Regions from separate parts of the Homo sapiens genome. Here region 2 is reported to be linked to region 1. The links are microRNA targets in miRTarBase. Many come from high-throughput screens and were not tested one by one. Region 1 holds a microRNA gene; the other region holds the end of a gene's coding sequence.

What was found. The annotated mature microRNA hsa-miR-6772-3p reads UUGCUCCUGACUCUGUGCCCACA and lies in region 1 at 1,260-1,282, opposite strand. An mRNA with a match to its seed (bases 2 to 7 or 8) in the 3' UTR can be bound and repressed. Matches are read on the target gene's strand: a 7mer-m8 pairs with bases 2 to 8, a 7mer-A1 pairs with bases 2 to 7 and ends in A, and an 8mer does both.
Region 2: miRTarBase lists PLEKHO1 as a target of hsa-miR-6772-3p. The part of its 3' UTR that is shown has no 7-base or 8-base seed match.

Annotation. Positions count from the first base shown.
Region 1 is chr16:57,771,031-57,774,424 of GRCh38, forward strand. MIR6772 (microRNA 6772) reads right to left here and starts at 1,322; the gene lies at 1,259-1,322. It overlaps KIFC3 (kinesin family member C3), which reads right to left. Exons shown (of 20, transcript NM_001130100.2): 4 at 1,193-1,258; 5 at 513-656; 6 at 168-407.
Region 2 is chr1:150,159,086-150,162,479 of GRCh38, reverse strand. It overlaps PLEKHO1 (pleckstrin homology domain containing O1), which reads right to left. Exons shown (of 6, transcript NM_016274.6): 6 at 2,415-3,394. The coding sequence ends at 2,957. It overlaps LINC02988 (long intergenic non-protein coding RNA 2988), which reads right to left and starts at 1,752. Exons shown (of 4, transcript NR_135098.1): 1 at 1,670-1,752. RefSeq lists silencers at 345-414, 1,003-1,072, 2,773-2,822 and enhancers at 1,683-1,992, 3,123-3,394.

The DNA.
Region 1 (3,394 bases):
CCTGGATACAGGAAGGGGAAGGGGCAGGACCAAGCACAGAACTGGAATGATTCTTCCACCCACACACACCTACCTATTCACCAGGACAAGCCCCCCTTATGGGCTAGCCCTGCCCCAGGTGCCAGGGGCCTTGGGCTGAGGCACAGATCAGGTGGGCCAGGGCTCACCTTGACAGGTGGGGACTGGGCCCGCAGGCTGGCAATGGTCTCGTGGCTGTCACGCAGGCGCCGACTAAGCCGCTCCTCCTCCTGTGCCTTCTCAGCCAGGCAGTCCTTGAGTCGCAGCTCCACCTCAGCCAGCCGGTCGGTCTTCTGCTGCACCTCTAGGTTCAGCTCTGACAGCATGCCTTTGCTTTCCGCCATCTCCAGCTGCAGCTGGGACAGCTTGTCACGGAGCTGGGCGCTCTCCTGCAGCCATTGGGAGGCACTGGATGAGTGCAAGGGACAGGCTCACTGTGAGGAGCTGGGGTGGCCCTCCAGGACCAGCATGGGGACCACGGCCATTCTGCTCACCTGGCTGTGCTCACAACCTGGGCAGGGACCTGCTGGCTTTGTGCGCAGCTCTTGCAGCTCGGCCTCACAGCGCCGCATCTCCTGCCTCAGTCGCTCATTCTCCACCATCAGCAGGTCCCGGTGCTTCTCCAAGTCGGTGCCCCCCTGCAGAGAGCCAGGGCCGAGGGGGCGCATGTGGCGAGGGCAGATGACGGGGGAAAGAAGAGAGGCCCGCGGAGATGGCACAAGGGCAGGGAAGAGAGGAGAGGTGTGGAGAAAGGCAGAGGGAAGGAGAAAAAGAAAAAGAAAAAGGCAAGGGCAAGAGAGGAGGGAACAAGCTCAAGAGAGAAACCAAGAGAAAGACAGTGGAGGGCAGAGTTGAGAAGGGTGGTGACCCAGAGCCTGCTCTCCCTGCTGCCCCCACCCTATTCTGAGTGTGAAAGTCACAAGGAGAGACATATTTATACCAGGGTTCACACTCCCGTTTAATGTCAGCAACAGAGAAGGAACCTCCCACCCCCTGGAGCCACAAGGCCTCTGAGGGTACTAGGAGGTGGGGATAAGGCTCTCGGTGTGTTTCTGAGACAGGGTGGGATATGCGGGCTCAGGAGAGAGAGGGTCGCACCCCTGCCCCTGGCAGGGCCCATCTGCACAAGGCAGGCCAGGCCCTGCGCTACCCCAGGACAGCCTTGTGGCCTCACCAGCTCAGATCGCAGTCGGCTCACTTCCTGGGCCTGGCTAATGAGCTTCTCCTTCAGGTGTTCTACCTGTGGGCACAGAGTCAGGAGCAAGGTGAGCCTCAGTCCTCAGCTCCAGCCTACACCCAGGCCTCCTGCCCAGCACCAGGGATGACTGATGTGGCTGTGGCTTCTTCTAAGGCTGTGGCCTTAGGTTCCCCTATGTTCAAGCATCCCATCACACCTGGGACTTCAGGTGAGAGAAACCTGGGCTGGTGCTGACAGCCTCCCGCACCCTCTCCCTCCACAGGACAGAGCCAACCCCAGCTCTTCAGGAAAGCCCAGAGGGCAAGTGCAACCAAGGCCACCCCGATGCCCCCTGGGCCCACCCAACGGCAGCCCACCCTCAGGACCCCTCACTACACGAGCCCCTCCCAAAGTCCTGTACCTGCCTGTGTCTATGTAATTTTATGTTCTCTCTCTTTAAAAGGGCCCCCAGATGGTACATACTCCAGGTCCTCCGAGCCCTAGATCCACCCTGGCCCAGCCCCCAGAATTTTCCACTTGGGGTGGTCTCTGGCAAGTCAGCCTGTGGAGATGGGTCTGCCAGTGGTCAGGGCACACTCAGAACCTGTGTCCACCCCTGCTCCCAATCTGCCTTGCAGGAAAGCTGTGGCAGCCAAGGCTCTTATAGGGGGAAGGGGGTGTGCACCCCATGAGGAAGCCACGGTTACCTAGCTTATCCGGACCCCAGAAGAGGGGACACCATCATGGTGCCAGTCCCATGAGGGCAGATCCCAGGGGAGCAACCCTTCCCCGGCGCTGTCCTCCAGCCACCCATCCCCTCCCAAGGCCCTAGACCCTGGTCTCACATCAGCCCACCCCCAGAAACCTCTCTCAGGAAACAATTCACAGACACAGACTTTGGCTCCAGCTTCCGTCAGGGCATGTTTAGTACTTTTCTTGCAGAACGTCCTGTGGTGAGCAACCCCCACCTCGGGAAAGGTGCGCTAAGAGCCAGATTCCTGTGTGGTGGTTTAGGAGGTTTACACAGCTGGGTTCTCATTACTAAATGATAGGCAACAACGTCCACTGATTACAGGGGACAGCCAGGTAAGGCAGGTGAGGGGCTGTGCAGGGCTTGGCTCCCAAGAACCCTTTAAGAAGGCGGCCACCACGTACTCTCCTCGGACGACAGGAGGTGAGAACGCACACCCAGCATCGCCAAAATTCTCATCTTTCAAGAGAGGCCTAGGCCAGCCTGAGCAACACAGCAAGACCCCATCTCTACAAAAAGTTTCAAAACTCAGCCGAGTGCACCAGTGCACGCTTATAATCCCAGCTGTAATCCGGGGGGTTAGGTGGGAGATCACCTGAGCCCAGGAGTTTGAAGCTGCAGTAAGCTATGATAGCATCACTGTACCCCAGGGTGACAGAGCGAGGCTGTCTAAAAAAAATAAAATAAAAATAGAGGCTTAGAGTCCGCCCCCTTAGCACTCAGCAGCATGCATCAGCCATAGTTAAGACAGGCCGGACATTTGGATTTTGGGGGTGTGTGTAAAATCTCCCTACTTTACATGGTTGAGATGTCATCAAACAAGTCTGTGTCATCAAACAAGGTAGTGTTCGGCCTCGGAGGTCCCTGTCTCCCAGGGTGGGAGAGAACGGCTGACTCACAGCAGCTAGGCCAGCTCTGAGTGGTCAGGGAGGAAGTGGACCAAGGGATCCACCCCCACCTCTGAGGAAAAGGCCAGGGAGCTGGCACTGCCTGCTCTTGGTGGGGCAGGGGGATTCCAAGATGCAAGACCCAGGTGAAAGGCTGGGGGCCCAGCCAGGCCTCCTGGGGGACAAGCAGGTGACCCAAGGGCCAGACCCCTGGAGGTCAGCTCTGCCGCCACCTGCACAAACACATTCCTTCCTAGCAACACGCTGGGCCACGGGCCAGGCAGGGAGGCAGAGCTTGTGCCACTTCTCTGCCCGCTCAGTGCCTGATGAGAGGACGGCTCAAGTCCTTTGGCCCCTGGGTGGGAGTAGGGACAGTTTGCATGAGGCAGCCTTTCTGCTTTCGTCCTAAAATTGAGAATACCCTGAATAAGCACCCTTAGAGGAGTGGGCAGGTGAATTACAATGTGTATATATAGTACATAGACTATTCTGTCATCATTACATTCATGTTTATCAGGAGTTTTAAATGTCATGGGGAAAGGCTCATCAACATATTAAGTC
Region 2 (3,394 bases), not on the chromosome of region 1:
ATGAAGTGAGGGAGGAGAAGCACTGGGAGGAAGGGAAATGAACGTAAGCACCTTCCCATCCTCCTGTCACAGTGCCCAGGTTCAATACAAATGCTTCAACAGAACTCATGCCAGCAGCCTACCACAAGGGTGCACCTTAAGCGATTTTTCTAGTGGGAAGCCTGGTTCCATGCTAAGCTCTAAAGTTCTTGAAGACCAGGGACCATGCTTTCATCCCTTCTGGCTCTCTCCTCTGAAGAGAGAGGTCCAGCACAGCCTGTGGCCTGGATCTAGCTAAGTGACAGTGACCCCACCCCGGTGGCCTCATTCACACAGTGCTCCTTCCAACTGAGCTAGCGGCTCACTGCCCAGAGTCAAACCAGTAACAGTAGCTGCAGTGGTCACTTTCTGACTGACAGGCATTTTCCATATTGTCCTCACCCATCCAATAGCTCTGCAGCTTGCAGATGAAAAAAACTGATACTCGGAAAGCATGTGCCTTGCCCAGAGCCTCATAATCAAGAAGTAACAGAGTTAGAATTTGAATCCAGATCCATCTGGTTTCAAAGCTGGGCTCATTTCACCACCCTAGGGCCTGGATGTTCCAGTAACTGCTGGAGAACTGGAAGCTGTTGGTTTTAGAGCCTGAAGCCCAGGAGCACAGTGCCCAGCTCCTCTCTTACTGTTGTGAGGTCCCCGATCTTTCTTTTCTGCTTCTTTCACCTGTCATTCTCCTCTCTAGTGTCTCCCTCCATCTTCTGGCTCCCCTGGGAGCCACAGATAATTGACATGTTGGGATACACATGTCATTTGTGCTTTTGTCTTTTTTCATTATGTGGGAGCAACAAGGAAGAAAAAAAGAAAAGGAAAAATGCTGGTAAAATACAAAGATAGAGACTTGTAAAAAGAAAGCATAATTCTACCTTAGACTTCAATACTTGTGACAATGGATGGCTCTGCTGACCATGCTTAGGGCTGTGGAGAGTGCAGCTATTTGAAGGACAGGAAGTCTGGAAGCCTGGGTTCTCACCTCATACCCCAAGAGACCATAGAATGACATGAAGGTGGCACTCTTGCACACTTTCCCTCACTCAACTGGGATACACATTCTTCAAGGAAGAGGCTAGGTAACTACAGTCTAGAGCTGGGGACAATCTCCATGACAGAGTGGCAAGGGACTAGAGAGAGCAAGAATTCCTCTGCCCTAGGGATGGTTTAACAGCAGTGATAAGGTCCAGAGAAGAGCTGTGAAGGAAAGAGATGATTTCTGGAAAGGGGACAGAGGCCCCCATTTTGCTTACATGGGTTGTAGGAGTGACGTTAGAGCAGAAGAATGCGGACTGAAGAATCTGTTTCTCCCACAGGTTTTTCCCCCGCTTCCTCCTATCCCATCTTCCTATAACATCGGGGCAGCGTCATGGCCAGGTCTACATGTAACTTGGCCCCGTTTCCTCCCCCTCCTCCCCTTACCTCTAGTGAAGCCCCGCTGCTCTTGGAGGATCAAGCAGCTAGCAAGGCACACTTCAATGTGGCTTTTAACCCCTCATTTACTTGATTCATGAGACTCTGTCCCCTTCTTTCCCAAAATCAAATTATTCCCTTCATAGCTCTTCTGGGGACCTCACCGTTACTAAACCTCATCTCACACACTTCCAAGGAAAGAGTGAACAGTGAGTTGTGTGGGACCTACCACAGACAAGAATGTTGGGAAGCCTGGCAACTTCAGAGGTGGCTGGGAGGGTGGTGGCGTGGGCATCCAGATGCTTTTCTAAAGTGGGGACTTGCTTAGTGATGGAAGAGGTTTGAGGAAGGAGAGGGGGAGGCTACAGGAAACCTCAGCATGGCTGAAAGAGGAACTTGGACAGATGTTTGGTTTTCCCCTTCATCCTACCCAGCTTGCATCACACACCAGTTTCATTCTTAGTTCAGTTCTTCTGTGGGGTCTGTCTCTAGTTCCCCTGTGCTAGGGCCCTGAATCAAATAATGAAACTAGTCTCATCCACTCAAGGTTGGATTTTTTTTTTTTTTTTGAGACGGAGTTTCGCTCTTGTTGCCCAGGCTGGAGTGCAATGGCACAATCTTGGCTTGCTGCAACCTCTGCCTCCCAGGTTCAAGTGATTCTCCTGCCTCAGCCTCCCGCATAGCTGGGATTACAGGCGCCCACCACCATGCCTGGCTAATTTTTTGTATTTTCGGTAGAGACTGGGTTTCATCATGTCGGTCAGGCTGGTCTCAAACTTCTGACCTCAGGTGATCCACCCGCCTTGGCCTCCCAAAGTGCTGGGATTACAGGCGTGAGCCACTGCGCCCGACAAGGGTGGATCTTTGAGTCAAGGTTGGGAAGGGTGTGGAAGATGAAGGGAAGAAACACCTCATGTAAGAAAATCCAGGCAGCTCGATCTCAATGAGAGACTGCTAGGAATGAGAAGCCAGTGTCTGGCTGGGGAGATTTTAATTCCACAAATCCTCCTCAGGGCTGGGATAAATTTCACTTCCATGTGCACGGACAGGTGACACTGGCCTCCACATCCCTACAACTAGAGTTGGGCAGCTGAAACTTCACCCTCAAACTGAAGGCCTGGGGTGGGACATAACAGAAAACATCCTCATCCCCCTCCCGCTCTAAGCTTAGAAGCCCACTGTATCCTTGGGAGCAGCAGTGGACTCCCTGTGCCGTCTTGGGGGCGGGCGGTGTGTGGAGTGGTCAGACTGTGTCTTTACCGTGCCTTCTCTCTCTCTGGCTGGGTAAAAACTTCCTGCTACTGCTGCGGGGTCACTTCCTCAAACCTGAGGGGCATACGAGGGGCATATGGAAAGTAGGTGGGGCAATAAGGGTTGTAGTGGGGTCAGGCATCAGCAAGAGCAATGAGTTCATTTTTGTTTTCTTTTTTTGATTGAGGTAAATAAAAAAGCTTTATCCAGCAACACGGAGATAAGAGTCTGTCCAACCCGACAAGTTCCAGACCCCACCCTGCCCTCACATCAGGCTCTTCCGGTACTGACTGTGCGGGGTGGTCTGTCTGAGGTGGGAGTCCGGGGTCTGCAGGTCCATCTGTCTGTACAGGTCTCTCAGCTCCCTGACCTCCTGCAGCACCCTCTTTGCCTGGCTCCAATTCGATGATGCCTCTCCCAGCAGCCGTTCCGTCTCCAGCAGCAGCTGCTCTGACTCAGAATCCGGCGGAGACCGAGGGGGGTCCTTGGCCTTTCGCTTCCCATCTCCCAGTCCCTGAACCTCTGCCAGAAGCTCCTGAGTCTCCTCCAGTTTCCTTGCTACCAGGTCCTGGATCCGGGACAGCTGCCCCGGGTTGGGGAGGGCAGGGGTTGGGGGTTCCTCAGCCCGCAGCTGGAGGGTGCGGGCAGAGGCAGCATCCCGCTGAGATAGGATCTCCTCCAGGGAGGCGCAGCGGCCTTTCTC